5 linked regions of the Homo sapiens genome follow. The protein of the gene in region 4 interacts with the protein of the main gene of each other region in a pairwise test. Each region holds a gene or a part of one and is shown on either strand. Other genes may lie near its edges. The genes, in order: HIPK1, RAP1B, RAP2B, RASSF5 and RASSF4.

Region 1 (6,612 bases), about 93 Mb from region 4:
TACTTTGACAGCTCCTCGGTGTTCAACCTGGTACAGAGCTGGCTGACCAGGCTCCATGAAATCTCCCATCTCCATCCTGCACCTCCTTGACACCATCTCTATCTACACAGAACCAGTCCTAAAATTATATCTCAAATATATCATTTTCAATTCAGATGGAACACACCTGTATTTTAGGATTAATCTTCTTTCCCCAAATCCTTTATGGGCAGGAATGTCCCCATCCCCAGTACCTTCTACTTGACCCAGATCCATGCAGGAGCTGAGAGTACAAGGACAATTTCACAGCTTGAAGGGCCCCAAGACTATACAAGCTGTTAAAAAAGAAACCTCAAAAGCCTCAATGACTCAACAGGCTTTGGTTCCTTCTCTATATTCTTCACCAGCTAAGAAACCTTTCTGTGAGTTCCTTGTCACCAGCGGCACCACAAAACTTCTCCTCATAGTATGGGGACATGGTAAGCAATACAACAGGCTCTTTGGTATAAACACATCTGTTAACATGTTTTTTTCAACAAGCAAATATTTTACTAGGAATGTCAACTATGTGCAGGAAGGACTGCCACATGGGAAAAGGAAAAAAAAATTCATTCTAAAAGTGATTGCACATACTTTAAAAGAATGCATATTTAATATTGGCTTGACTCCTCTCACCTGCTTCCTGAATTCTCACAGAAGCAAGGTAGCAACGCACAGTGAGAGAGCCACATGGGGAAAATGCTTCTGTGAGAACTCAGCCGAGAATCCAAAATGGAAAGGGGTAGAGGTGGTGGTAAAGGAGAAAAGCTGCTGTTTTTATTTTTCAATGTTGGCAGGGAAACTGAGAACAATGCATTACACAATACAGCTACTAATCCTGTTCTGATAAATCCCGGTGAACAACTTAGGGTCCACGGGGGCTTGCTGGTCCATCCTAAGGCAAGCTCACTGTAAACTCTATTAACCACTACATTATCATATAAGGCACTACAATAAGGGAAGGAGGAAGAAAGGGAAGGAAGAGACACACACTGAAAAACTCCTCACCAGACACACCTGTGCAAAACAATTCCAAGGGTCTCCTCTCCTTGCAGGCAATGCCCCTGCTCATTCAGCACTACAGTAATATGCTCTAATATAATTGCAATTAGTTCACATACATTCCAACAAGTATCAGTTCATTTTGGTTTAAATACAATGGAGACATCAATCCATCTCCGGGATAACACTGGAGGATCACATACACACTAAGTACACAATTCAAGTGTAATCACTACACATTTGATTACAAATAACATTTTGGGTTAGCAGGAAAAATTGCTTGTTATATTTTTCTAATCAATATGTACATATTTAATTATGTAAAATATTAAAACACCACCATTACAAAACTTCTAAAATATTTTTAAATTCAGTAATAAATTTTTAAAATATTTTTTGCAATTCCTACATGCACTTATTATATAAGTCTTAATAAGAGAGCATTCAATTTGCTGCTGGCATACAAAGGAAGCTACTTTGAAGTATAAAAGCTATACACAAGAAATGTTCTTATCTGGTTTCAGGTTTTTTTAGCTTTCTCCCCAAACAAATCACATAAAACAGAAGGGAGAGATGAGCAAAACAGAGGTGTATTACTGAAAATTCATACTAATCTTTAGGCAAAGCTCATCAATGCCAGTATCTCATAATAGACAGAGATTTTGCATATAATAAAACCACCACCACCATGTAATAATAACCACCTTAATGGCTTTTTCGATAAAAAAATTTAAGCTGAATCAGAGAGAGAAAGACTTTTAAAAAATAATTTAAAAAAGAATTCATGGTGCTTCATTTAAAAAGAATACTTGGTGTTTTCACGCAGATATGGATTCTCTCACATTAAGTTACCAGCAAATGGTGAGCTGCCTTTTAAACACTACTTTATAACAAACACAGGAGCAATTGAGAGAATCTCAATAGTAACACAGAGTAATACGTAACCAGTTTTGCAAAAATAACAATTGCCCATTAAGTATAATATGACATTAAAACAAAACTGAAACTCTGTAAGTTTAAATGTCCAATAAACAAAAGGGAGATTGTGTAAGCCGCTTTTAAAATAAAATAGGCAAGTCTGAGTTTATAAACAAACAAAAAGTAATTTTTCTTTTTTTGTCATCAGATTTCAACTCCTTCTATCAGCATTTTTCCTGACCAGCAATCACAATAACACAAAATGAAATAAAGAGGGGCTTCACTTGTTTTTAAAAGCATTTATAGAAATCAAGTCAGAGAGACAAAATATTTTTCAGAGGGTAACTTCAGAACAATCTCTCTTCCTTGGTAACTGCAGAAGATGGGCATCTGAACTCTTCCAAGTACCAAAATTACTGTCACAAAAATAATGAATTTAAAAATAGGGCAAACTTTGGGAAGACTACAACAATGCAGTCAACACTGAGACAGGTTCCCCCAGAGAAAAACCTTCTGCTTCAGTGGGCCCCTGCAGAACAAGTTGCTGGCTAAGAAATTTCAAGAGGGTAAAGGAGGATCTCTCCATAGCCCAATATTAAGAACGCAGGGCCAGGAGAAGGTAGCCATGATTCCTCCTCCCTCATGCTCACCAACTATAAGTAGGAATACTGGCTGATCTTGGTAGGACTCAGCGGGTATCCAGTGTAAATTGTTGAGCCTCGGGAAGACCCAATGTAGGATTGGGTGGCAAACTGGTGTTGGTACTGAGCAGGGGCCACGCTGGCAGAAGTGAGGAGGCTGGGCCCAACACTGACAGGGACCTGGTGCACCAAAGTGCTAGGGTGAGTGGTATAGGCTGCAGCATGCCTTGAGGAACCCTGTGGGGAGAAAAGATGAGCAATGGAGCTGGTTGAGCCCAGTGCAGCAGCAGAAGTCGGGGCAGCATACGTATACAGATGAGCCTGGCTTGGCAGGTGAGCAGGGGCCGGGGCAAGGTGTGGGTGCCCTGTCGAGTGTAGCGGGCTGCCATGCTGGAAGGTGTAGGGGGCTTGGGAGAGAGGGGCCACAAACGCCTGCTGCCTGCGGGGGGCTGGGTTGCTGCTTCTCTCCTGTGAGGTTGGAGCCGCCGATGACTGCTGGTTCTGGAAGAAAGAAGGAAGAAGTGAGGAATCCTGAGGTCACTCCAGCTCAGGGCACCAAAGGCCAAGTTAAGAGCTCAGGTTCTGACTTGTACTGTTTTCGAATGGGTATAGCACATAATCTCCCACACTGGCATTGAATGCTGTCAGAAATCAGCCACCCCTCCTTCTGCCTCTTAGCAAGATAGATCCTAATCTGGCTCAGGTAACAGCATTTTGCTTGTAAGTATGACAGGAAGAGGGAGAATCAAGAGATCATAGGGTTCCCCACTCCTGCAAGTTAATAACTGGTGACTCAACTCACCCTATTCTGGCGTCAGTAAATTTGAATTTTTCCTAGCCTTTATTTCTTACCATTGCTTTCTTTTGTTTTCGTCCTCTAAGTTCTTCATACCCCTCTTGAAATGTGGAAACTAAAATACATGCACTAACTCAAACTTACATTTTCACTTGCATGTGCTCTCTCTCACATACCCTCATACTGACACTTTCTCACTACTGGTGGACATCATACAAGCACTCGAATTTTAGCTTCTAAGAGTGAACACAAATAGAATAAAGTAATGAGAGAAGCAGAAGGGTAGGTTGGGGCTGGGGGTGTTCGGAGAGTGGGGAAGTCCCAAATCGCAGACTCCAGCAACAAGTAGGACCTAGAACCAGTTGAATTTGGTGGCCAATGAGCTTTTCACAATCTCTTGACTCAAGTAAACAATGTAAGGATCAGCTTACTTATGGCCTGGGGGATAAAGAGAATCTGGTCTCAAAGCATATGCCTATCACAGACATGGTTAAAGCACCCCAGGCTCTTTCTAAATCCCAGACGTTTCTCTAACCTTCCAGGGTAGACTTAGGGAGGTCTGATGGAAAACCTAGAATGTACATCCTGAACACACTTACAGAGTGAATGAAGAGACACAGCATATGCGGTACGACGTAAGCCATAGAACACAAAATTGTTTGACACAAAAGGGGCTTCATTTGGCTTTATTCAGCATCCAGCCAGAAGCAGGGTTCTCCAGAAAGTAACAACAGTGCAGGGCCCAAACAGAAGGCAGTAGCCCATAGCACTTACCTGGCTAAGATTGAGTGGTTGTGCTGCACTGGTCCCCCCGCGTTGAGCTCGATACCCTGTGGGGGTGATACAGCATCCAGATGACTGCCCACTCACTGAAGCGACTGGCTTAGTCTTATTGCTCAGGAGACCTAAAAAAGCACCAGGCTTAATAGTTATGAGTAGACATCACTGAGCTAACCTCAGATGGCATCATATTAATTAGTCCACATCTGTATGTAGTTTGCAAGCATTAAGGTCTCAATTCTATTTACATCAGAAGAAAATAACCTGTTATCACCCATTTCTTTTCTGTCTTGGCACAAATCTCCACATAGGATCCTCAAAATGTTCACTTAAATAAATATTATAAATATTTTAACTATAATCTCTTGTTATATACAAGGAACGACTGGAAATACAAATATGCTAAGACACCATCCCTCTCTCCAAGAGTTTATAGTTTTATGTAGGAAGGGATTAAACAAGCACAGAAATGATAATGTGAAGCTGAGAAAGCTATTGGTAATTCTTAGGATATTAAAGTGGCAAGAGGGTTTAAAAGAAGGCAAAATTCTATCTTGTTGGACACTTACTGTCTTCAAATTCTTAGAAATTACAGGACAGCTGAATGTGAAATTTTGCTTGCTTCTGTGTTCCCATTAGGAAAACCAGAGCATTTATTCAGTGTCTCATGTGATAGCCTATATTCTCTGGACCCAAGAGCACACGGAGGTACTAATAATTCTATTCAGTAGCCTGGCATCAGGAAGCTCTCTCTCTTGTCTGCAATGGGACAACTGTCTACTTCTGAAAAGAATCACACAGAGGCATAACACAATACCCTCAAATTACAACCCTGTTTATGTCTATGGCAGTAAGATAATACATAATAAAACATAATTTATACAAGTATGGCCCAGGTTTATGTTGACACCTAAACTTCACCAACCCCTTCCTTGGTATGAAGTTGTCACTGAAAAGCAGCTGCCTTAACAAGACTACATTGCCTGGGCTCACTTGCATCTAGGTGGGGCCATGTGAGAAGCATTCACTATTTCCACTTATTTCCAGCCTAAAGAGGTTAAGACATGTGTGTGCCTCCTTCACACTTTCTTTCTCCTTCTGACTGGATGCTCAGGAATCAAACACTTGTACCAAGAAATTATATGAGAGAGAAGTAAAATTCTACTATGTTATGCTACAAAAATCTAGGATTTGTTACTGCAACTGCTATTACCCAACTAACACAATAACTAAACCAGGGAGCTTAAGTCCAGTATCTAACAGGGCAAAGATGATGGAAGTAATTGGGTTGGTAATAAAACCATCAAAAGCATCACTGCTATGACACTGGGTGAGAAAAAAATCTAAAGAATATAACTGTTTTCCAAAACACTTTTGCAGTCATTTTCAATATTATCAAGTCCTGTCTACATCTCAATTGCCAAATTCAAATCATCTGTGGCAAACCTAATTGCCTGCTAATTCTTCTTGCAATATCACACGTCTTGTCTGCTTTCTCCCATCAGCACTGAATGTGTTTCTGAGACTACAATCTCATTTGTATATTAATCCAAGCAAAATAAACACAGGAAGATAAAGTGATGGCCAAAAATAATTTCACATTGTGCAGGGAACTGATTTCTGAATTAAGGTCTCTTTAAGAATGTCTACACCACTGGTCTCTACCACTGATATAAGTGGATTATGGCAAAATATTTAAGCATTCACACATCAAAGGAGAATTCAACTCAAGCTGTGAAGATAACACTGACCTGAGGCCTGGGTTGCTACAGTGCAGTCACCAAGCTGAGTTTTCAGTGGAGGCACAATGATAGTGCGGGTGCCAGTGCCATCTGCCACAACTCTGCCAGGCCCCTCCAAAACGGATCCACTATTGCCTCGGAGAGCACTCAGGGTATCAGTGGAATAAGGGCTGCTCAAAGAAGAGTCAGAGTCTGGAGAATCATTGACAGTGACATAACTGATGACATTAGACCTTGGCTTCAGTCCAGAGCTGAGGAAAAGAAAAATACATGAAAATTGAATTGTTCTTTTTTGTGTGTGTGACAGCGTCTTGTTCTGTCACCCAGGCTGGAGTGCAGTGGAGTGATCACAGCTCGCTGCGACCTCAACCTCCTGGGCTCAAGCTATCCTCCCATCTTAGCCTCCCGAGTAGCTGGGACTACAGGTGTGTACCACCATGCCCAACTGTTTTTATCTTTTGTAGTGATGAGATGTCACTATGTTTCGCAGGCTGGTCTCAAATTCCTGGGCTCAAGTGATCTTCCTGCTTTGGCCTCCCAAAGTGCTAGGATTGCAGGCATGAGCCACCATGCCGAGCTTCAACCACCCTTTTAAGCAATGTTTCTTAGATGATCTGTCTCTGGTTCTCCCATGATAACAATGATGATAAAGATGGTAATAATAATAGTAATATTAGCAGCAGTAAACTTCTGGGTACTTATGTATCAGGCACTA
Region 2 (6,612 bases), on a different chromosome or scaffold from region 4:
CAAAGTTACATAATACTACAGTATTCTTCATTGAGCTATAATTATAGACTGTGAAAATTGTAAAAATAACTGTCAAAACATTATTGTTTTTTAACGTTCCTTTCTTTCTATTGTAGGAGCAATTTACAGCAATGAGGGATTTATACATGAAAAATGGACAAGGATTTGCATTAGTTTATTCCATCACAGCACAGTCCACATTTAACGATTTACAAGACCTGAGAGAACAGATTCTTCGAGTTAAAGACACTGATGATGTAAGCTGACTTCCAAATAAATATATTTTATTTCAAAACCCTGATTATAATTGTTTAAGTCTAAATTTAAATTCATTTTAAAGCTTGTGTATTTTGGTTGGGGGGGGGGTGTTGGTTTTTTTAAACTTTTTCCTTGAAAGGCAAAAATACCCATACATGTTTTCAAATATATATCATGTGGAAAGTGAGAAATTTCCTCCTTTGCCATTATCCTGTGAAAATTAAATGTTACACCCTTCCTTTTTTTTTTTTCCTTTGAGATGGAGTCTTGCACTGTTGCCCAGGCTGAAGTGCTGTGGTGCGATAGCTGTACCTCCCGGGTTCACGCCATTCTCCTGCCTCAGCCTCCCGGGTAGCTGGGACTACAGGCGCCTGCCACCATGCCCAGCTAGTTTTTTGTATTTTTAGTAGAGACAGGGTTTCACCATGTTAGCCAGGATGGTCTCGATCTCCTGACCTTGTGATCCGCCTGCCTCAGCCTCCCAAAGTGCTGGGATTTTAAAGGCAAGAAATACATTAGATTCTAACATTATTAATTTAGGTGCCCCTTCAGAGTCTACCATAATGGAGTTTAATTCCTCATCACACTAAATATAGCAGTGGTTCTCAAAATTGATTTTGCATCAGAATCACCTGTAGGACCAGTTAAAACAGATTGCTGGGCTGAGATCTCAGAGCTTCTGATTCAGTAGGTCAGCAGTAGGACCCAGGAATTTGCATTTCTAACAAGTTTCGAAGTGGTGTTGGTTTTGCTGATCTGCATACTGTAAGAACCAGGCTGGGCATGGTGGCTCACACCTCTAATCCCAGCACTTTGGGAGGCCAAGGCGGGTAGATCCCCTGAGCTCAGGAGTTCAAGACCTCCCTGGGCAACATAGCAAAACCCTGCCTTTACCAGAAATTTAAAAAAAAAAAAATTAGCCAGCATGGTGGCGCGTGCCTGTGGTCTCAGCTATTTGGGAGGCTGAGGTGGGAGGATCACTTAAGCCTGGGAGGTGGAGGTTGGCAGTGAGCTGAGATCACATCACTGCACTCCATCTAGGGTGACATAGTGAGACCCTGTCTCAAAATAAATACATAAATAAGACTCATTGTACTGCAGTTTAATTTTAGCAAATATTGTGAGAGCTGGGAGACACCCATGGTAAATGCTTTTATTTTCTGGACTTCTGAAACAAGGGAATTTGGGGGGACCCTACATAATTACAGCAACCTCAGGGAACATTTTTTAATTTGTAAATCCATTTAATAAGTGGCTTGATTTTTAGTAAATTTTGATTGGCTTTTTTTTTTTTTTTTTTGAGACGGAGTCTCACCCTGTCGCCCAGGCTGGAGTGCAATGGCACGATCTCAGCTCACTGCAACCTCTGCCTCCCAAGTTCAAGCAATTCTCCTGTGTCAGCCTCCCAAGTAGCTGGAATTACAGGCGTGTGTCACCATACCCAGCTAATTTTTGTGTTTTTAGTAGAAACAGGGTTTCGCCATGTTGGCCAGGCTGGTCTCCAACTCCTGACCTCAGGTGATCCACCCGCCTCGGCCTCCCAAAGTGCTGGGATTACAGGCGTGAGCCACTGTGCCTGGCCTTGATTGACTTTTTTAATACAAGACTATGAGAAACTAAAAATTCTATTTTGGGAGCCTTCCGTCCATTATGATAAAATTTTAAGGTTTTTTCCCCCCATCTCTCATAACAGGATCATAGCTTGTTTTCTCAAAAGTTTATGTAAAAGTGTCTTATTTATGTCTACATTGACTAGGTTGTGTTCATTTTACTTAACATATGAGAGTTTTCTTTCTCTCTTTTCTTCCCTTTGGAGTTATCGTTTGCATCTCCATGAAAAGAGAAGGCAGTGGAGATAATTGACATCAAAGTTAATACTTATGTTTATGTTACAGATTAAATTGTTAAGGCTGTAAATTTTATTATACATTATTTAATATTTTTTGTGGCATATGAAAAGTAATTCTTAGATTTGACTCTTAGAATTCTTTTGATTTGAATTCATATAGCATATTTACTTATTTATTTTTACTCTCACAAATGTATTTTTAGGTTCCAATGATTCTTGTTGGTAATAAGTGTGACTTGGAAGATGAAAGAGTTGTAGGGAAGGAACAAGGTCAAAATCTAGCAAGACAATGGAACAACTGTGCATTCTTAGAATCTTCTGCAAAATCAAAAATAAATGTTAATGAGGTATGGTCAAATATACTTAAAATGGGTCTTCATTTGAAGTACAACATTGAAGATGAATGGAAAATGTCTTAACCCCAAGTTAATATGTACTCAGGGTAATATGTTGATGTTACAGGCAAAAAAAAAAAACCCTCATGTTAAATGTATCTATGTAGTAAATAAACAATACTATTTCAGTCTCTATTAAATACTTGTACATTGATATTTACCATGAAAAAGGAAGACTGGACAGAAAATACATGGATAGGGAAGACAGATTAAGACTTCAGGTATATGAAGGATGTTATATGAAAAATAGAGTAAAATTCCGAAAAGTATGCATGGTTCTTGAAAGGCTCCAAGTCATGTTGTAGAGCAAAAACTTACAGTTTTTAAAAGGATTTTTTCTTTGTGTGATGGTAAATGTTCTAATTGAACTAAGTTAAGATCTCTGCAGCTCCTTCAACTAAGTATTTTAAGGAGCACAATATTAACACTCCCCAAAAATTTGAGCTTGGCAGTTATAACACCTGATTTTATTCTCATTCCTTAGCTGAACAATTCTGGGCATTAATTTATATCCATGGAAATTTCTGTTTTTTCAATTTACTTTTTTCATTGGGGGGGATAGGTGTTCCTCCTGTAAATTAAAACAAATTATTGTATTTGCAGATCTTTTATGACCTAGTGCGGCAAATTAACAGAAAAACTCCAGTGCCTGGGAAGGCTCGCAAAAAGTCATCATGTCAGCTGCTTTAATATACTAAATGCATTGTAGCTCTGAGCCAGGTATGTTCACTTATCTTTCCTCTAACTTTTAATCACTCAACCTTATTAAGGGCACTCTGTCATGAAAGCAAGTATAGACTTCTTTTTGTTGGTTCTGAAAAATAAATGGTTTATTTTTATAAGATATCCATGAGTTAGTATGCTATCTTATTAATTATTTACTTATCATCATGAGTAAAGTATTTCACATAAGTATTCTTTTTTTGAGATGGAGTTTCACTCTGTCACCCAGGCTGGAGTGCAGTGGCGCAATATCAGCTCCCTGCAACCTCCGCCTCCCAGGTTCAAGCAATGCTTCTGCCTCAGCCTCCCGAGTAGCTGGGATTACAGGCACGTGCCACCACGCCCGGCTAGTTTTTTTGTATTTTTAGTAGAGATGGTGTTTCACCATTGTTGGCCAGGATGGTCTCAATCTCTTGACCTCGTGATCTGCCCACCTCGGCCTCCCAAAGTGCTGAGATTACAGGCGTGAGCCACCACTCCCAGCCAACCCCGTCCCTAATTTAAAACACACACACACACACACACACACACACACACACACACACACACACACGTGCGCGCGTGCGCGTGAGCCACCGCTCCCAGCCAACCGTCCCTAATTTAAAACACACACACACACACACACCCCTGACATGTTCATCATGTGCCAGTCACACACACACACACACCCCTGACATGTTCATCATGTGCCACTTTTTTTTTTTTCCTTCAACTTTTAAGTTCCAGGATACATGTGCAGGATGTGCAGGTTTGTTACATAGGTAAAGGTGTACCATGGGGTTTGCTGCACAGATCTTGCATCGGTACCTGGCACATAGTTAACACTCAACTATTAGCTGCTGCTGTTTGCCAATGATAATGGTTTCCTCTTCAGCTGTCATTAAACTGTTTATTGTTAAACTGTTAATTTATTCTTAAGAACCTTTGACATTCCTGACTCTTATTTCTTCCTATGTTAATTGACTCAGTGCTGCCATAGCACTTTGATTCTGCATCTTTTCAGAGTTTTTATTCCTGCCTTCCATCTAGGGCTTTCTGTTTAGTGGTATATCCTCTCATTCTAATATCCTATAATTCCTGACCACATGCCCATTCTTAGCAGCACACATGTGCTTGAGCTCACACACTTCCATCTGTCCTTTTTAATTTGCAACAGTCTGCCAGGATTTAGAAAACTTGATTGCAAACCTCATTCAGACTCAGAATGAGGACCTAAAGTTCTAGGCATTTGTGAAAATTATTTCAACAGCCACATATGTATTAACAACTCTTCTGGAGCTTGTAACAAGTCTGATCACCAGAAAAATATAATAGGGAACATTTTTTTAGCCGAGGCATGTATGCAGAAAACTATTCAAAGTACATATTTAACAATTCTAAGTTTACTTTTTAAAATCTTTAATTACATGTGATTTTAGTGTAATACCACCTTTTTCTGACATCAGTCTTAATAGAATGTTTAAATATGGAATTAGAAATTATATAACGTGATTGTAAATCTGTAAAACACCATCATGAAATAAATTCTATTTGTCTGCTCTGAACGAGCTTTTTAGCCACTTTCATTGAAAGAGTGAGGAAGAACTTGATTATCTGATACTAGAAACCTTGGTTAGATGTGCATTCTATACTTATGATCTAATTCTAGGAGTACATTACGATTGTGTAAACACAGGATCACCCAGTTTGTTAATATTGCTATCTGACTTTTCAATCCTAATTCTAATAAGGTTGACTTGACTAACAATTTTAATGTGATTTTTTTCCTTTTTAATCCTTGGAAGGTAATGCACAAAAATTTGCACAAAGGTACTTTCCCTTTCTGTTCCTAAGATTTTCATTTAACTGACTTTCAAGAGGGCAGCAGAATAGACTTCATCTTTTTGGAATGAAAAGGTCTGCCGTGAATTGTGGTATGTTGCCACTAATGTAATGCCTAGAACAAGAGCCTAGATTATATTCATTTCTAACACTTTTAAGACTGTTTTCTTAACTGTTTGCTTTTGGGTCTTTACTTTTTCTAGCCCATGTTTTTAATTAATTTTTTTCCTTTTGACAGGTCTGAAGAACTGTTGCCCAATTCAACAGTGCCAGCATTCCAACTTTGTTAAACCTACCAACATCTTAAATGGACTTTCCTGTGGTGGTACCCTTTAAGAGGCGGATGAAAGCTACTATATCAGTTTGCACATTCTAATCACTTTCCAGTATCACAAGAGAGATTTTTACTTATATAATAGTCCTAGAGTTTGCAGCTGGTAAAACCAGAGGCTACATCCAGTATTACTGCTAAGAGACATTCTTCATCCACCAATGTTGTACATGTATGAAAATGGTGTACTGTATACTTTAACATGCCCCATACTTTGTATTGGAGAGTACAATAATGTAAATCCTAAAAGCACCACTATTTTAGCATAATAAAAGAAAGTCCAAAGAGCTCCTATATAGACTACTCCAGATAACTTCGCTTCTTTGATACTTGTAGCTTATTGTAATTTTTTTTAAGAAATTCAAGGTCATTATTATTGTACAAAATAAGCGCTTTGATTAACACAGCTATATAGTTTTTTTAATTTTTAAAAAACCTGTGGAGACGGTGATCTTGTCTTTAAAACATGATAGTCCTTTCAGTATAATGTCTTAGATTAAAGACGTTGCCTTTAATATCTGTTGGGAAGGAAATGTCCAGACTTTTCAAATCTCTTATTATATGTTTCCTTTTTTTGTTTACATAGGGAACAATGTTTATAGTCGTGTGTACAGTGGGGGTCTACAACAAGAAGTGTATATTTTCAAACAATTTTTTAATGATTTAACAATTTTTGTAAATCATTTTCAGGCTTCTGCAGCTGTAGATTCTCACTGTGAATCCCTTGCTTGCTCATGCATAAGTGTATTTGCAATACCAAATATACAGGTTTAGTATTTTTGCCTGTTAGTGATTGTTTCACATGTGTAACGTTTTGGTTGAGATGTTAAATGGTGGACGAGTACTGTGGATGTGAATGTGGGAAGTAATTTTAATCATATGTAATTGGTCACAAGGCCTAATTTGCAGTAACTATTGCTGTTTTATTTAACAATGCCTTGTTGCTTTGTATGCATTAATGTTTGGATGTAAAGATTGTGTGTCTATCCAACAGGGAGCCACAGTATTTAAATTGACCAACCTAATGTTACAACTACTTTGAGGTGGCCAAATGTAAACTAAAAGCCTTAATTAAAGTGGTGCAATTTTGTATAACTTAGCATCAGTAGTTCAATAAATTTGGATTGCCATGCAAGGGCTTGCATTATAATTACTTGCCACTTGAATGTGTTTTGTGTAATGTTTTAACAGTGCTAGTAAATAAATACGGGTTTACCCTGGTTTTAATTGTAATA
Region 3 (3,931 bases), on a different chromosome or scaffold from region 4:
AGAACTATATTTAGTTCTGAGCTCTCAGCCTAAATGCCTCTTATTTTTTCACTTTTACTTCAAAACGCCAGGGTTGGGGAAGTGGGAGGCAGAGGGTGGGGGAGCAACGGAGAAAGAACAGCTGTGCCTCCGCCTCTCCGCTCAATCTCTATAAATAACCAATCGCGAGCGGAGGCTACTTTTTAGCCAATGAAGCGCCCCAAACTGATAAAGCCTTGGCGGCAGCCAATGAACAACACTTAGGGGTGTCAGACTCGCGCCCCGAGACCAATGAGTGCAGAGTCTGGGAGAGGTAATTTGAGCTAGAGTGTGGGTGTGTGGTGCAAAAGCTTCCTACTTCCAAGCCCAAAAACCTGCTCTGCGACTGAGCATGCCCTGAACTAACTGCGGGCGCCCTGAGACTTCTGGATTGGGATGTAATCCGGTCTCCGGGTTTTGACCGCACTCGAGCGGGGAGGTGGGTACGACCCGCGGGACCCTGCCCCGAGAGAGCTGCAGGTACCAGAAGCTACCCCTTTCCTAGTCGGAACAGTATCTCAGACTTGGAGTACCTCCTGTTTTCTTTGTGCAAGGCTGCAGTGCACAGAGTCGGTCAGAGAAGACAGAGTAGCGTTTCTGTGGCGAACGGTTTAGAAAAATCTATGGGGCAGGTTTGCTCCGCCGGCTGCTCGTGCATTCCACGGCACCCACAGGACTTCGGGTTTCCGGCCCCCAGACCCACGCCCGCCCGGGGCTGAGTGAATGGCGTCCTTGGGCCTTTGATAACGGGAGTTGGCAAGACCACAGCCTACTCCATCCCTGAGGCGGCCCGCCGCGCCCACGTGCTTCTCGCAGAGCCGCCGCCCTTGTCCACCACTCCCACAGCTGTAAAATAAAGCGGCCTGCATGCTTCCTACAGCGCTTTCCTCGCTCCCATATACGCACACACACCCCATCTTCCAGCCAGTTCCTAACTCGCGCCACTCCCCAAATCGGACTCAAATCCGGAGCCCCGCCCACTGCCCCGCCCCCTCCCGGCCCCGCGGAAAACCAGGAGCGGCCGCTTGGGCAAGGCGCGGCCGGAACGCACTGGGCATGCTCGCCGGGGAGGGGCGGGCCGGGCTGCGCGCGGCGAGTAGGAAGCCCTCGCCCAGTAGAGGCTGTGGGAGAGAGCGCGATGGGCCGCGGCGGTGGGCGCACGTTCCGCGGGGACTCATGCCACGCGCGTCCCGGCCCGACGCGCAATTAGCAGCCACCTCCGCAGCCCGCCGCCACCGCCTCCCTGCCCTCCCGGGCTGCCGCAGCTAGGAGCTCCAGCCGTCGCCTCGCGCAGGCTGCGGGCATTGTCCTCTCGGTTCGCCGCCCGGGCTGCTGCTGCCGCCGCGGACTGCTGCGGGGCCCGGACCCGCACCCCAGGGATACGCTGCCGCCGCCGCCGGCCGGCCCGGCGCCCGGCCTCCGTTCGGTGGTTTCCGCCCTGCGTTCTCTGGGTTGCTCTCTCCTGGGTTTTTCCTGCGTAGCTGAGGAAGGGGAAGAGAAGTCCAGCCGCCAAGCCCAGCCTTCCCCGGCGCGCAGCCCCGACGGGGCCGCGGCAGGCGCGGCGAGAGCGCTGACGGAGCCATGAGAGAGTACAAAGTGGTGGTGCTGGGCTCGGGCGGCGTGGGCAAGTCCGCGCTCACCGTGCAGTTCGTGACGGGCTCCTTCATCGAGAAGTACGACCCGACCATCGAAGACTTTTACCGCAAGGAGATTGAGGTGGACTCGTCGCCGTCGGTGCTGGAGATCCTGGATACGGCGGGCACCGAGCAGTTCGCGTCCATGCGGGACCTGTACATCAAGAACGGCCAGGGCTTCATCCTGGTCTACAGCCTCGTCAACCAGCAGAGCTTCCAGGACATCAAGCCCATGCGGGACCAGATCATCCGCGTGAAGCGGTACGAGCGCGTGCCCATGATCCTGGTGGGCAACAAGGTGGACCTGGAGGGTGAGCGCGAGGTCTCGTACGGGGAGGGCAAGGCCCTGGCTGAGGAGTGGAGCTGCCCCTTCATGGAGACGTCGGCCAAAAACAAAGCCTCGGTAGACGAGCTATTTGCCGAGATCGTGCGGCAGATGAACTACGCGGCGCAGCCCAACGGCGATGAGGGCTGCTGCTCGGCCTGCGTGATCCTCTGAGGCGGCCACCGCGCGCCGGCCGCGCTCTGCGCACAAAAGCCAAACGCATCCGACTCTCTAAATGTGATTTATTTCTTGCTTTGAGATTGGAGACCACTTTGCATTGGCCAGGGTGTCTTGGGAGCCCGGCTGGCCTCCGCGGCCGGCGTCCCCTGCCTCCACCCTGTGCCCGAGGGGGTGTCCGGTCCTGCCCATCCGATACTCTGGTGGAAATGTGGCTCTTTGCAGCATGTACGTTTCTCCCTGATTTTGGTTGATGCATATTTCCCCGTTTAAGTAGCCGTTAGGGCGCAGTATCGGCAGCTTGACACCCACCAAGCAAAAGTTTCAGCCTGGAAAAAAAATGGGGGGGAAGGGTGGATGAAAAGGAGGGAGAGAAGGTGGAAATGGTTTTTTTTTTTTTTTTTCTATTTTCTTTCTTTTTTTTTTTTTTTTTTTTTGGTCAACAGCCGTTTTTCTAGTTCCAAGTTTTAAATACATGGAAGGAAGTCCGGGAGAACCATATGAAGGAGCAGGAGGAGAGGAAGAAACTTTTTTTCCTTCTTTTCCAGGAGTAGCTGGAAATTAAGATCGGGTTCCTTTTCTGCCAGCTTGGAAGGGCAACCCCATGACTGATTGCGATTCTGAGGATGTCTATGCAAAGTTGGATTCTTGTTACAGTGTATCCAATCTGAAGTATTGCACATCTGAACTGGGACTGTTAACACTGATGCCAATACAGTGTGGGGTGCCAGAAAGTGTCTGCTGATATTTGTGGAAAAAAAATCTATTTTGTTTACCTACTGTATCAAAGGGGAGTCTGGGGGAGAATGGTAGTATTTTTTTTTTTTATCAGCTGTGAAAAAAATGTTACAGATCTGCACATTTTCGTGTGTACTATGGTGTGTGTGTGTATGTGTGTGGTGTGTGTGTGTTTTAAGTTTAGCCTTTTGTTTTTGTTTTTTGGTTGGCAGTAACCGATTTTAATGACTAGCTTTTAAAAATACAGTACAAAGACTTTGTAAATGTGATTCAGGGCCCCCAGCACCCCTGTGTCTGCAGAGTGCCTTCAAAACTCAGCTGTTCCAGCCGGTGCCAACCTGTGAACTTCCCACCATATCCCAGAATCTGCTATTCCCCAAACCACTTCCCAGTTTCCTTTCAGTAATCTTTCTGAAGGAGCCAGGACAATAGGGCCTGTTGTTTAGTGAATTTCTTTATTATTTTCAGCCTTTAAAATGTAATTTCCATCTCTTGCAATGAATTTGTTTCCCTTTTTTTTGCTTCATTTTGTTTAAATTTTCAGGTATTTAGCTCCCCTTTCATATTATTTTTAAATTTTTTAATTACCTGTTGTAGGGTGTTCCTCCAGAAGCAAAGAGCAAAATTTTACTGTTGTGATGTACCAATTCTAACTAATTGTAATTTTTAATTTCATGCGTTTAATCATTGTCTCTTCATTTTAAGACTTTTAATACAAATGTCATTTTTAAAGAAACAAACCCAAAACTATTGTTTGTGTTTCTGTGTTTCATATTCAGTGATTTAATACAGTATCATGGCTGAGGTGGATGGGGCAGGTGCATGATACTCTTCAGAGCTATTTGTGAAATTTTAAAGACAGAAGTGTCTCAGTGACAAGTTGGATGACACTACTCCCAACTTTTTAAATTTGGAGAAAACCATCAAGGTCGAGGAAGCCCTGGGTATGGCCATTACCATCTGATTAGAAGATGAACAGGTATTTTGAATCTGATCTGACATGGAACAGTTTACCTCATTGTAGGTAGGGAACAAGAGA
Region 4 (6,612 bases):
CCCTGAGTGACAAAGAAAAGACAGCCCCCAGCCCAGTCCCAAGGGCCCTGCCTCGGTGGGAGAGTGAATTTATCCTGTCAGGGAGCTACCTCCTGTGAAGTGTGAGCAGGTCAGGGGCCAGAGGCTCAGGGGAAGCTGCCGCAAGGCCGAACCCAGGTCTGAGAATGGGCATAAGAAGAATTCTTTGCATGTCAGTAGTGCCTTTTCTCTGAAGAGCCCAAAGTGTTTTCATGCCCGCTGCTACATTCATGCTCAAAATAGTTTCATGAGGTCAGAATACAGGGATACAGGGATGCTTAGCTCAGCTGAAAGGGAATTACCTGGCCAGGAGTCACCTGCTGGCTTTGCCAGGGACAGTGGTAAAGTTAGAACCTCTCGGGCGGGCCTCATTCTGACAGGTCTTCAAGGCTTTGGTGCTGTCTCAGGCCCTCAAGCCATTTCCCCCGCTTTGGGCTTCAGAGTCAGCACCTCTGTGTGAGAGGCTGCTACCTGAGGTGGGATGGCCATGGGTGGGTCCCAGCTCCTGCACCCCAGTGTTCTCCCACAGGGTTCTCTCTGGCTCCCACACCCACCCCTCATTCCTCAGTTTCCCCATGGAGGGCAGCTGCTGGCATTCTTGCTCTGCCCAGGCTTACTATGAAGGCTGCTGAGGAACCTGTAAACACATCTCTGGCCTCACCAGAGGCCCTTCCTGTTCGCATTCCTCAGATGGCAAGGTGAGTATTCTTGGGTGGGTGAGTATTTGTGGGTGTGCAAAGCATGCAAGCTCCCCACCCCCAGCCCTTCTGAGGGAACCATGTTCCTGGGGCTCAGTCAGCACCAGCTGGTATGATTTCCTTCTCACAAGCTTGCAGACCTGGGTCTGTGCTGGTGGCAGGATGCTTTCTGCCTCCCTGCAGGGTCTCGCTCTGTCTCTGCTGACTCTGGGCACCTGCCCCTCCCGCAGGGCTCTGTTCTGACTCTCCATGGCTGGGTGGGGAAGGGCTGGCGGCAGCTGGGAAGGCCGGGCCTGACTGGGGAGATGGTTTTGCATTTAGTCATTTTCAGTTTTTTTCCAAGACTTTTGGCAAGCCTTTCTCCACATGTTCCGGGCTGGATCTCAGGGTCGGAAGGGGAACAGAGCCAGTTTTGGGGCTTAGGGGAAACAGCGAGGAGGCTGAGGTGATGACGTTAGACCAGGCAGAAGGCTGGGTTCCCTGGGGGCACTGGTTTAAGTGGAATAAAGTCGGGGCTTGGGAGCAGTCATGGGTTGCCCCACCCCAAGGTCAAGACTATCTTGACTCACACCTGGGGAAGTGACTTTTGAGTTTTTTCTGAAGCACTCATAACTATGCTGAGGAGACTTGGGCAGAGCCTGGTAGACCCCAAGAACTCTCCATGGTGTGGTCTTTGGCTGAAGTGGCCCACAAGGCCATGCCGGGCCTGTTCTAGCATGCCTGTGGTTCCTAGAGTACACAAAGGTTTGTGAGAGATGTACCCATTGGGAAATCTTTGAGGTTTGATTCTCTTTTTTTACCCTTTTTGGAGAGGAAGGAGGAAGGGCAGTGGGGTCCCTCCTGGCATCATAGCATGTGTCCAGCCTCCCAGGGGAGAATGCCCCACTTTGGCTGAGGAGTCTGGTGACCCCTGGGAATTGTAGCAGGTTCTAGATTTTCTTTCGGATTTTCCTACCTATAACTACTGCCCTGGCCCCATTTGAGGGCATGGGGCAGAGGGATCGGGGGGAATGCAAGATGTGCATGCTGAGGGTCTATAAGAGGGGTGGTGTTGGAAAGAGTAGTCTGTTCATTTTTGTGTGGCACTGAGCAGGTGAGTGGATGGCTGAGTATGACACTTACCTGTGACAGGTTTATTCTTCAGTGGAGGGCCTATGTGCCACCTTCTGCTCCCCATTCCTGTTTTTTGAACAAACATATTTCCAGGGTGGGGCAGGTCTTATTTAGACATCTGCAATGGCCATTGGCTGGGGCTGCTAGAAAATTAAAACTTGGCTTACATAGACCTTTAAGAAATCAGACTCCAGGTTCATGAAAGTCAGGCCAAAAAGAAGAGTGATGTTCTTATTTTTTTAAAATCCTTTTATGTTTTGTTTCTACTGGATGCTAGAGCTGGAAAAGAATTATCATTGTGTTTGCTGAAGATACAAGCTGGCATTCTGTGAACCTGCTAGGATGAGTATATTCACATGGAATAGGAAGAGTTGAGAATGGCAAAGAAACTGTGGGAGCAGAAATAACTTTTGTTGCACTTGGCTATCACTAAGGCCGTTTGATGTGCACTGCCTCTGTCAGGATTGCAATTCTGTTTCGTCGGTAGAACTGATGTAATCAGGGCCATCTCATAGATGAGGAAACACAGCATTCAGGGAAGTCAAATGACTTCGCTAAGATAACCCAGATCATTAATAGCAAAGCCAGCACCAGAACCCAGCATGGCATTTTGCCTTAGGCTAATATCATTGATCACGCAAGTTAGTTGAGTTTACTTATCCATCTGCTGCCCTTCTGCTGGTGAATGCTGAAATGTCCAAAAAAGGAGGTACAGGAAAAAAAGGGAGGTGAGCCCTATACAAGCTAGAGAATCAGCCAGGGCTGGGTAATTGAGAGTTGGCTCCACTTAAGCCAATTTTCAACAATCAGTTTCTAAATTGATTGTCACCATGTGCAAATCATGAGATCTTTAGAAAAAGGGTGAAGTTTTTCCAAATCCTAAGATGAAAGAAATAAGTGTGTCTCTCCCCGCTCCCACCTCACCCCGTAGGTGTTCAGGGTGTGTAGGGGGTGGGCCTGGAAATGCAGGTGGAGGATCTTTTTCTGTTCCAGTCCTCCTTCTTGCCATGGCCCAGCTCTCAGAGTTCATGACACAGCACTAGTCAGGAACCAAAGTGAAATTAACAGACTGGATCCTAGAGGGGACAGCTAGGGTGAAGAAGACATGGATAGGGACTGGACAATAATCTGAAGCTGCCTAATGGACCTCTGGCTCTAATCTCAGGCAGTGATGTGGCCCCATGAGAAAAAATACATCTGGGGAAACCTCCCACCCCCAAGCCAGCTCTGACTCTCTATATTTCTCCAGGTTCATCTCTTATTTGGGAACAGGTACCATTGCTTACTTTTCTTGCTGATTTGCAGGAGGCTGTTTTTTCTATCCAAGTTGAATGGAAGTTGGAGACTTGGTGGTCTCTGCTGAAAGAATTATGTGGATTATTTTTTGCATCTGAAGAAAGTATTAACCTCCCCCACCTCAAACAAAACCTCAGAGATGCCTTATTATTCAACTGGAACAGATTCCAGCTGTAACATGAGAGTTTTGAGAGAAAGCGTTGAGCATATTGTCCATGAATGTCTACCCTAGTGATGAGTGTTTTTTAAAAGCCATCTGGAGGTACCTTTATATAAAATAGGGTGATAATATATTGTACCCCAGCAAGTAAGATGGTGAAGGTTGTTGCTTCAAATTATGCTGGGCCATGGCTGAACTTGCCTCCAGCATGGAGGTCATTGAGTCATTGCTTAGATGTCAGAGACAGCAAGAGGTCATTGCAGGCATTTCCCTGTCTCTAGGTAGTGCTCCTCCCAGACCATCATTACAGTAGAAAAATCTATCTAGTTTTCCAAAGGTCAGGAATGAAGATCCTAGAGCTTCTGAAAGCCCCATCTCCAGACTCTGCCAGTTCTTTCCTGTTGTCTTTCCCAATGGCTTAACCTGTCAAAGAACAGCTCAGTGATGAGGAGAAAAGAGAAGTGAGGTCAGCATATTCTGCAGCCCAAACGGTGCATTCGGAAGGGATTTCCCCGCATTACACGTGACTTTTTTTTTTTTGAGATGGAGTCTCGTTCTGTCGCCCAGACTGGAGTGCAGTGGTGCAATCTCGGCTGACCGCAACCTCTGCCTCCTGGGTTCAAGTGATTCTCCTGCCTCAGCCTCTTGAGTAGCTGGGACTACAGGTGCGTGCCACCACACCCGGATAATTTTTTTGTATTTTTAGTAGAGATGGGGATTCACCGTGTTAGCCAGGATGGTCTCAATCTCCTGACCTTGTGATCCGCCTGCCTCGGCCTCCCAAAGCGCTGGGATTACGGGCATCAGCCACCACGCCTGGCCGTGACTCATATTTTAAAGTTCCCCCAGCAGCCCTGTGTTCTCTTCTTTGAGGGCGGGGATGGGAATGAGCCCTTGCCTGTGCTCAGCCAGGCAGGACTTCCTAGGCCCTCTTGGAGATCTTGGGTGCAAGGACCAGCAGGGCAAGGAACTTGGCCCCCACCCCTTGTTTGATGGTCCCAAGTGTCATTTCAGGACCCGGACTTGCTTATGCCCTTCTTCTGGTACAGAGGTTGCTTGGTAAACTAGAGAGGGCCACAACAAAGGCCATGGGCAGCTCCCTTCTCCCTGAGGAAGCATTAGGGAGAAAGAATCAGTCCGCAACTGAGGAAGGGTGGCATCTGAGCACAGACGTATAAGTGCATCTTCCACCAGAGATTCTGCAAGTGTGTGAGTCCTCTGAGGTGGATTTCCTCTGGTTAAGGGATAGGTGTCCCTGCTGGGCATGGAGGCTTCACCCCTGTAATCCCAGCACTTTGGGAGACTGAGGCAGGATGATCTCTTGAGCCCAGGAGTTCGAGACCAGCCTGGGGAACATGGTGAGACCCCCACCTCTACAAAAAATATAAAAATTAGCTGGGTGTGGTGGTGCCCACCTGTAGTCCCAGCTACATGCTGGGGGGTGGGAGAATCACTTGAGCCCAGGAGGTCGAGGCTGCAGTGAGCTATGATTGGACCATTGCACTCCAACCTGGATGACAGAGCAAGATCCTGTCTCAAAAAAAAAGAAAAAAGAACAAGTGTCCCTCCTTCATGTTAAGCTGGTCCCCGCTGGTGGTTGGCAGGTGAGTCCTGTCATCTCTGGGCAGCCTGGGAGGGACACCCCTCTCTAGTGGCTTTTCTGGAAGGCTCTGCTGCCTGTCTGGTGCCAGTCTTCTGTCTTGGACTGGGCAACAGGGCCTCCCAGAACTTTTCTACTAGGGCTTGGCAGCTTCTGGGAGTCAGAGTGAGAGAACACCTGTGAGTACTGTTTTGGGGCAAGAGAACAATATTTCTGCCCTTTTGTGACAGACTGATCTTTTCTCACCACCCCACACCCATAGGGTCACATCCGCTTCTGCTCAGGTATCTAGTCTCAGAAAAATGAATGGCCTGACCCTCTTAAAGCAACACCACCTCCTTATGGGCCCCTCCCCCACCCTGGGCTTAGCATGGGAGGATGTGAATTAGCCCCAGTTTGTCCCTTAGGAGCCTGTACAGCTGGTGAAGCATTAGTAATCCACCATCCCCAAAGAAATCCATTAACGAGCTCCTGGGCTGGGCACGTGGTGTGAGGTAACCGATCACTTCTGTCGTCTGAAACTTTGGAGACATTGATTTTCAGACTCACAGGCGCGACTGAGAAGTGAGGCTCGGGGCAGGCTCTTCCCTGCAGCCTGTTTGGTGGGGGCATTTTTATCTTATCAAGCTAAAAGCCCCAGGAATAGAAAGTTTTCCACTGGGGGAGGTGGAGGGGAAAGGACCTCAGTGCGGAGACAGAAGGCATCGTCAGTCGTTGAGGGTACCAGAGCCTGAGGGTCCAGGTGACTGTCCAGGTCATGCGAGGCCCAGGGCCCTCCCCGGAGCCCTCCCCCACCCGGCACTCCACCCCTGACGCCAAGCCTGGAGAAAAGCTATTGATCTCTGGCGCTGAGATGACCGAGGGCCAGGAGGAGAAGGCAACCGCTGCCTGCTTTGGGACAGTCACTGCTCAGCTCCAGCGGCTCTTCTGCAGGCTCCCGAAGAGCCGCTCGGTCTCCAAAAAGCACCAGATCCTGCAGAGGTTCCGCAACGGGGCCCGGAGGGCTCGGGGTAGGTCTAAGCCAATCTGACTGGGGGAGCTTGGGTTCTGAGGCCTCTGCTACTGGCTTCTCCCATAGAAAAGGAGTACAGGATCTTTCTGGCAGTCTGCTGTTTAGTGCTGAGCTCAGCACCACTCCTTGGCCCTCCTGACTCCGCAAGGACAAAGGCACAGGTGCTGTCACCTTGCCTGGTATGGGTTGAACAGCCAGATCCAAAGGACATGGTCTGCCTGTTTTGGAGGCCTTGAGTGGGTAGTGGATTTTAACAACTTTTTATTGGCTGAGAATTAGGGCCAAGCGGTCGTCTTAATCAGGGTCCCTGAGCTGGCAGAATATGGGTATCTCGGATGGCCACTGTTTTCCATTCTGCCTATCCTGTAGCCCTTCAGACCCTGCCAAGTTGCTGAGTCAGCCTTCTGAGGACCTGGGAGCAGTGATGTTTCCCAGGCAAAGGCTTCTCACCTGCAGAGTTAGTGAAGGTGCAGGCTGCATGGGGCTGAAGGCTGCTGGGTGGAGCACAGCTGACAGGAGTCCCGGCCTCGGGAAGTGGCCAGACCACTGATTCCTCTCCTGAGCACTAATTAGGGCAAGAACAGTCCTCGCCTGAAGAAGGATAACTGGACGGCATAGCGGTGAGTGAAAGATAAGAGGCAGAGACAACAGCAATCCAAATCATCATAGGATCTTAGGTCATCCCATGCCCCTTTTCCAATGAAAGGAAGCTGGG
Region 5 (5,907 bases), on a different chromosome or scaffold from region 4:
GCCAAACATGGCCACACATCCTTTAGGATAAGAGTTTCAGAAGTTAGAGCCGGGGGTCAGGGTGGATGCACAGAAAGCAAAAAAAAAAAAAAAAGCTTGGTTCTCACTTCTTCAGTTCAATACAGCACACCTTTATTGAGCACCTAAGGATCTATGCTGCCAGAGGAGGGCAGAGTCGACAAAACAGTGGGCAGGCCTCCCCTGCAGCTCTCTGTGTCTGTGATGATGGAGCTGGGTTGGGGAAATCCTGCTGTGACATTTGCCCTGACGCAGTTCCGCACAGCATGGTGGCTTCCAAGCTATGCTCTTGATGGGCACCCGTAAGGAGCTTCTACATGCATTAGAGATGGAGCCTCTCCTATCTTTGCAAGCCTTTGTGGTTCTTCCCTTTAAATCTGCCATCCACGGACCTCAACAGGAGAATAATTTGGTCTTCAGTTTGCTCTGTTTTAGACAAATACTTCACATGACTGATGTAAACTGTTGCATAGTTTCGCAAAGGCTTTCTCATTCATTCCTGAAATTCTCCATCAGTCACAAACACAAATTGTTCAGTATCTGGGGAATTCAAAGCCCTTTCCTCAAAACAGACATTTCTCCTTATCATTCTTCCTTCAGGGGAAGTATTGAAAGTCATTGAAAGTCATCCCCACCCACTAGAGGAGAGAAACGCAAGCCCAGAAAAGGCAAGAGGTACACAGGCATCCACGGGACAGTGGTGATGGGGCTGAGCACTGCCTTCCAGAGCTGCTGCTGGGCATTGAGCGGGCAGCACCCTCTCAATGCCATGTGGACCCTCCTCAATGTGATTGAATGACCGTGTTTCTTGCAGCAAGCTCCTTGTAAGAATCGCTTTAGGTCTCTCTGATGAAGTAAAGATTGATTTCTGCAGAGAAAGTGAGATACTTGTGGCCTTATTCCTGGTCTCACCTCTGTGTTGGGGCTGAGCTGTGCGAGGCTCACAGGGTGATATTGGAGGCTTAGAAGCCGGGGACACTGTGGCAAGGTGATGGCTGAAAGCAGGCTAGATCTCATACCTGCTGGCAGGCCCTGCTTTTCCCAGCAGCATTCCTGTGGGGCAGCGTGATATGAGGGCAGACAAGAATCTCATATGAAGGAAGAGGACAGGGGCTTGTGGACCCACAGGGGCTCTGGGACAGGCAATGTGCAAGCAGATGAAGCCTAAGCCGCAGGGGCTGGGCCAGCACTGCTCTCCAGTGCAGGAGAGGCATGGTGTGGACAGGGCTGGCCACACAGATCTGACCCAGCAAGTTCCTGGCCCCTCAGGCCTGGGTCGGCTTCCTGTGGGTGCTCATCTTGGAGCCAAGAGCTGGCTGTGGGAATCATGGTGCTCAGGCTTCAGAGAGGTAGACACACAGGCACTCGATTCGTCAGGCGGTGGCCATCAGTCAATGTGACCGGCCGGGGCCAGCAACCAGGGCTCAGTGTACACCTGCCACTGCTGGGGACTTTGGAAGAGGCAGGTGTTGGCCAGTTACTTGGCCTCCACCAGCTGCTCCAGGCGCTGCAGCATCGTCAGACGCAGGGCTTGGAACCTGGAGGGAGACATCGCCAAGAGGACTCACTGAGGCCAGACAGGGCAGGGAGGTGGGCAGCAGAGCAAGGGACCTGCAGATGGCCAGCTCAGGAGATCCCTGCAGCAGCCTCATCTCTCCTCTGCCAAGGAGGGGGAAGGCTGTGGCCTGCGCCTCATGAGGTGCAGTCAAACCAGGCTGTGGACTGCACAGAGCATCAGAGCAGAGTGTTGTCATTTCTATTGCAGACTCTAATACAGACAACAGCACACTGGAGTGGACAGGGCGGTAGAGCAGAGATCGGGAAGCCCATGTTTCAGCCCAGATTCTGCCATAACCTATGCGGCAACCTTCCTTGTGCTGGGCCTCAGCGTCCACTCTGTACGTTGAGTGGACCCACTAGTTGCCCCCCAGATCCCTTTCAGCTCTCAAATCTTACGGGGTCAGGACTGACTGCAGAATGGAAGATTCCCTCTGACTTTGGTCTCCTCTGCCTGTTTGGGGTCTGGCTGCACAGACAGGAGCCTGTGGAGGATGTGGCTTTCCACGGGTCATTCAACCAGAGGCTAACATCCATCCTTTCCCCACACACCCCAGGCCCTCTCAGTGAGCTCCTGCCCTTTCCTTCCTAGCTGCCTCCCCACCAGCCCTGGTGGGGTGCCCTCCACAAGTCCTGGACCACACTTCACTTTGCTGAGGGGGAGACGTCATTGGGACTACAGCCTGGCTAACTCATGCATCCGGACCCTGGCGTGGTGTCCCCAGGAGCTGGCAGGTGAGACCTGCTCACCTTTTCATTGAACTAGCCCTCTGCACCTGAAAACATCGGCTGAGGCTGGGAGTTCCAGCATCTGCCACTTTGGGGAAGGCTCAGAATTCCCACTAGGACAAAAGGCCCTAATCAGGCCAAGTCTGCCTCAGCATGCCTGCTCCTTGGAGCCACATCACCAGCAGAACTCAGAAGCTTGACCCAGCGCCCACTTGGGTTCCTGCCTGACTTTCCTGCCAGGTGTTCTGCAGCTCATGCCTGCGCTGGTGAGGATGCCAAGACTGGATGGGTGATCGGGGCTGTGTCCCACTGTTTTGGCAAGCTGTCACCCCAGCGTGGTGGCAATACCGAGCAGGGGGCCAGAGGGTGATGCTGGGGAGCTAGGGTTAGCAGGCCTTCCCGTACCAGGGTACTGGTGCCCATGGAGGAGAGAGACCTCCCAGCCGGCACTGGTGCTGTGCTTTGCAGACCTGCCCTGATGTTCAGGACCCATGACTGTCTGTTTAAGTGCTGCTTACTTCATGGTCAGTTTGATTATTTCTCTTTCTTCCTCTTCTTTTAATTTTTCAACAAAACTGTCCAGCACCGGCATTTCAAACTTAATGTACTGAGCGACCTAGAAAATCCAAGAACATTTTAATGTGCTTTAAATTCGAAGCCAAAAGTATGTTTTCTTTTCCTCAAGGCTTCCATAGTGGCCCATCCAGCCAACATCTTGTATCCACAGAAGGAGCTGCCGCTTTTCCCACCCCACCCCCACACTGCTGTGTTGTGTACAGATGCCAGGACGGGAGCCTATTACTATCTCAAAGGCAACTGTTATCCCTGGGAGGAAATATTAAACTGAATATTAGGAAGAGCATTCAGTACAGCAGCATTGTCACATTGGGTGCCCTCTGGGCTAGGGGGTAGGGAGGTGGGAGCACCATTGTTTCTAACAATGGAATGCAATTGCAGCAGCCTGAGGGATACGGGGTCACTAGGCCTCCTACTTGAGGTTCAAACCCTGTAAGCATCTTCTATGCAGAGGAGTTTGGAAATGCACTCACTGTCTGGTCAGAACTCAGGCTGTTGGTAAGACTTAAATATCTCCCTGTTTTCCACAGGTGCGAGGTAGGGCCTAGTTAAAAAGCCTTTGCATAGGTCTCTCACATAATGACAACAAAATACATTCCAATGAAGGAAAAGACTTTACTTCCCTAGAGGAAAAGGACAGGCCATGGTTTTATAGGACCCAAATTCTTCTTTCCCCTAAGCTGCTGGTGCTGGCGGTCACTGATGGGAGAGGGAGGGCTGGCGCCTCCCTGTGCTAGGCTGGGAGCCCTTTGGGAGAGTGTGGAGCTCCTGGAGACATCAACTGACAGGGCTCTGGCCAGGAGTCCTTGGGAGGCCCCGTCACCCAAGAACCCCTCACCCTAGAGCAGGCCTCCCCAGCCTTGGCCCCCACTCACTTCATGGGGGACTTCCACGCCCAAGTCAGCTTCCATCAGGAAGATCCTGGCGATCTTCTCACATGGCCCATGCAGGATTCTGGAAATCAGCGGGTACTCGCAGTCTTTTAATTTTGTCCGCTCTGAAAAAGAAGGTGGTTTACAAAAATCACGGGAGATTAGGATCACCTCTGTCTGTTCCAGATTAGGAACTGATAGAAAATGTGCGTCTAGGGGCGCAGGGAACCCTAAGAACACAGACCTCGCTAACAGCGCTGCCCTGAGAGATTCCTGCTCATGCAGAAGGGAGGCAGAACAGGGCCCCCAGATCTGCCACTTTGGCATAAGGATTAAGTGGAGCGGCTGGCAATTGAGAAGAAGAAGATACAAGTGAGGCTCTTTGCCCTCCCCTATTTGCCAAAAAGCAGGACATAAATTTGTCAAGGTGTGCCCCCGTCCCTCTCTAGGCAATGATGGAGTTAATCACCAGAGACAACCCGAGCCCCTCCTCAGCCTGGAGAGGGCACCAGAGGAACCTGCACAGCACGTCCCGCTGAAGCCCTTCCCTTCCCGCAGCTCCCCGTGCGGTGACCTTCCCACCCTTCGCCTCCCCAGAAACTCAGGCCCTTCTCCTCTGTCTTGTCACTTCTCTAAAAACTTACTGCTCTTTTGTGAATATGCTATTTAAGCCCAAATTCTGACCATTCATCCCTGGATATTCCAAAGGGCATGCATGATGCAAGTGTTAACAAACTTCTGTTTGTTCTTCTCCTTAATCTGTCTTTTGTTAATCTAAATACAGGGCCCCAGCCAGTGAACCTAAATGGGTAGAAAGAGAAGATAATTTTCCTCCCCTACAGTGTCATTCAGCAAAGGTGCAGCTTGAAGAGAAACAAGATCTGAGGGGTGGGAGAAAGGAAAGCTGAGACGGGAGGGCCAGGGCCTGATGCACTGCGACACGCACCCCACCCTTCCTGACTCGGCGCCAAGGAGCTAGGTACCCACCCATCCATTTCTCTGGAAGAGGCGGAGAGGGAGGCTTCCTATAGCTTGGTGGGATTCTCCTTCAGAATCCTGAAAGAATTAAACTTAATGTACTGAGCGACCTAGAAAATCCAAGGACATTTTAATGTGCTTTAAATTCGAAGCCAAAAGTATGTTTTCTTTTCCTCAAGGCTTCCATAGTGTGCCTGGGTTTGGGTGGGGGAGAAATGTTCATGCTGGGAGGCACAGTGTGCCCTAGCCCACTAGGCAAGCCAGCACGGAGCCCATCTGGAAGGGAGTACAGTCAGTGGTTGGTGGGGAGGGGGCTTGCTGAACAGGTAGAGACCTTTTGCTTTTACGATCCAGAAGTGGGGCAGGTACTTACCCCCAGACTCGTGAACGATGTAGAGTGCGAACTCACTGGGGCCATCTTCCACCTGCACAGGCAGTCACAGGAAGTCAGATCACGGTGCTTGGAGATGGGAGAGAACTGAGAGGGTCCCCTGACAGTAACTACACCCCCAGTAACACACACGCAAGTTGCAAGGAACCTGTCCTCTCCCAACCTCCTCTTGCTTGAAATCCGAGAAACCAAAGCTCAGCAGAGGGACCCTTGCTAGACCTTCTGCCCAGGCAGCTTCTGCCACGGGCAGCTTTCCCCAGAACCCCACCCCCAACAGAATAGCAGACCACTGGCATCCTGGGGCAAGGCTGCTCCTGACCAGGCTTACCCTAAATTTGTTCAGCAGCAGGGTGAGCACCTGCAGGGTTGTCATGGTGCTGTTGACCCTCACATTGGTCACGGATCCATAGGCTGGAGTAAACACGGAGGTCTGTACCAGGAAGGGAGAGAAGTTCAGGTCAGGCCCAGAGGGGACAAGGGACTGACATCACAACGGTGAACAGACCAAGGCAGCAGGTGACGCTGAGATCTGGGAACACCTGCACCTGTCCATTCACGCTGATGCACACATAAGCTGTTCCCAGACCTGGGAGACACTCCGGGAAGCTGTAGTAGTGCACTCCTTCCAGAGGCCTAAGGAAGATGTCTACACACCCAGAAGGGCCAGCTCTCTGGACCCGAGGAACCAGGGCCATGGAAGTCATTCACAAGGGTGGGGGAATCAGTCTCTCCATCACTCTTTCTATTGATTAAGTCACCAGTTGTCTGTTGATTCTAAGGCTGAAA

Evidence for each region.
Region 1: the proteins of RASSF5 (region 4) and HIPK1 interact in a two-hybrid assay, tested with the Homo sapiens proteins (one study listed by BioGRID).
Region 2: the proteins of RASSF5 (region 4) and RAP1B interact in binary tests that used the Homo sapiens proteins (3 or more experiments, as listed by UniProt).
Region 3: the proteins of RASSF5 (region 4) and RAP2B interact in binary tests that used the Homo sapiens proteins (3 or more experiments, as listed by UniProt).
Region 5: the proteins of RASSF5 (region 4) and RASSF4 interact in a two-hybrid assay, tested with the Homo sapiens proteins (one study listed by IntAct).

The regions. Positions count from the first base shown.
Region 1 is NC_000001.11:113,969,492-113,976,103, reverse strand, and holds part of HIPK1 (homeodomain-interacting protein kinase 1), read right to left. Parts: intron 6,149-6,612; coding exon 5,907-6,148; intron 4,281-5,906; coding exon 4,150-4,280; coding exon of another isoform or gene 4,066-4,149; exon of another isoform or gene 4,046-4,065; intron 3,081-4,045; coding exon 2,592-3,080; 3' UTR 1-2,591.
Region 2 is NC_000012.12:68,653,996-68,660,607, forward strand, and holds part of RAP1B (ras-related protein Rap-1b isoform 1 precursor), read left to right. Parts: intron 1-116; coding exon 117-257; intron 258-2,310; coding exon 2,311-2,454; intron 2,455-3,105; coding exon 3,106-3,192; 3' UTR 3,193-3,222; intron 3,223-5,284; 3' UTR 5,285-6,612. UniProt on the Homo sapiens protein: GTP-binding protein that possesses intrinsic GTPase activity. Contributes to the polarizing activity of KRIT1 and CDH5 in the establishment and maintenance of correct endothelial cell polarity and vascular lumen.
Region 3 is NC_000003.12:153,161,095-153,165,025, forward strand, and holds the start of RAP2B (ras-related protein Rap-2b), read left to right. Parts: upstream 1-1,131; 5' UTR 1,132-1,599; coding exon 1,600-2,151; 3' UTR 2,152-3,931. UniProt on the Homo sapiens protein: Small GTP-binding protein which cycles between a GDP-bound inactive and a GTP-bound active form. Involved in EGFR and CHRM3 signaling pathways through stimulation of PLCE1.
Region 4 is NC_000001.11:206,512,650-206,519,261, forward strand, and holds part of RASSF5 (ras association domain-containing protein 5), read left to right. Parts: intron 1-6,612. UniProt on the Homo sapiens protein: Potential tumor suppressor. Seems to be involved in lymphocyte adhesion by linking RAP1A activation upon T-cell receptor or chemokine stimulation to integrin activation.
Region 5 is NC_000010.11:44,988,918-44,994,824, reverse strand, and holds part of RASSF4 (ras association domain-containing protein 4), read right to left. Parts: intron 5,552-5,907; coding exon 5,450-5,551; intron 5,156-5,449; coding exon 5,104-5,155; intron 3,878-5,103; coding exon 3,756-3,877; intron 2,921-3,755; coding exon 2,823-2,920; intron 1,557-2,822; coding exon 1,496-1,556; 3' UTR 790-1,495; coding exon of another isoform or gene 654-789; 3' UTR 21-653; coding exon of another isoform or gene 1-20. Other genes in the region: uncharacterized protein LOC124902530, read right to left, coding at 1-20, 654-789. UniProt on the Homo sapiens protein: Potential tumor suppressor. May act as a KRAS effector protein. May promote apoptosis and cell cycle arrest.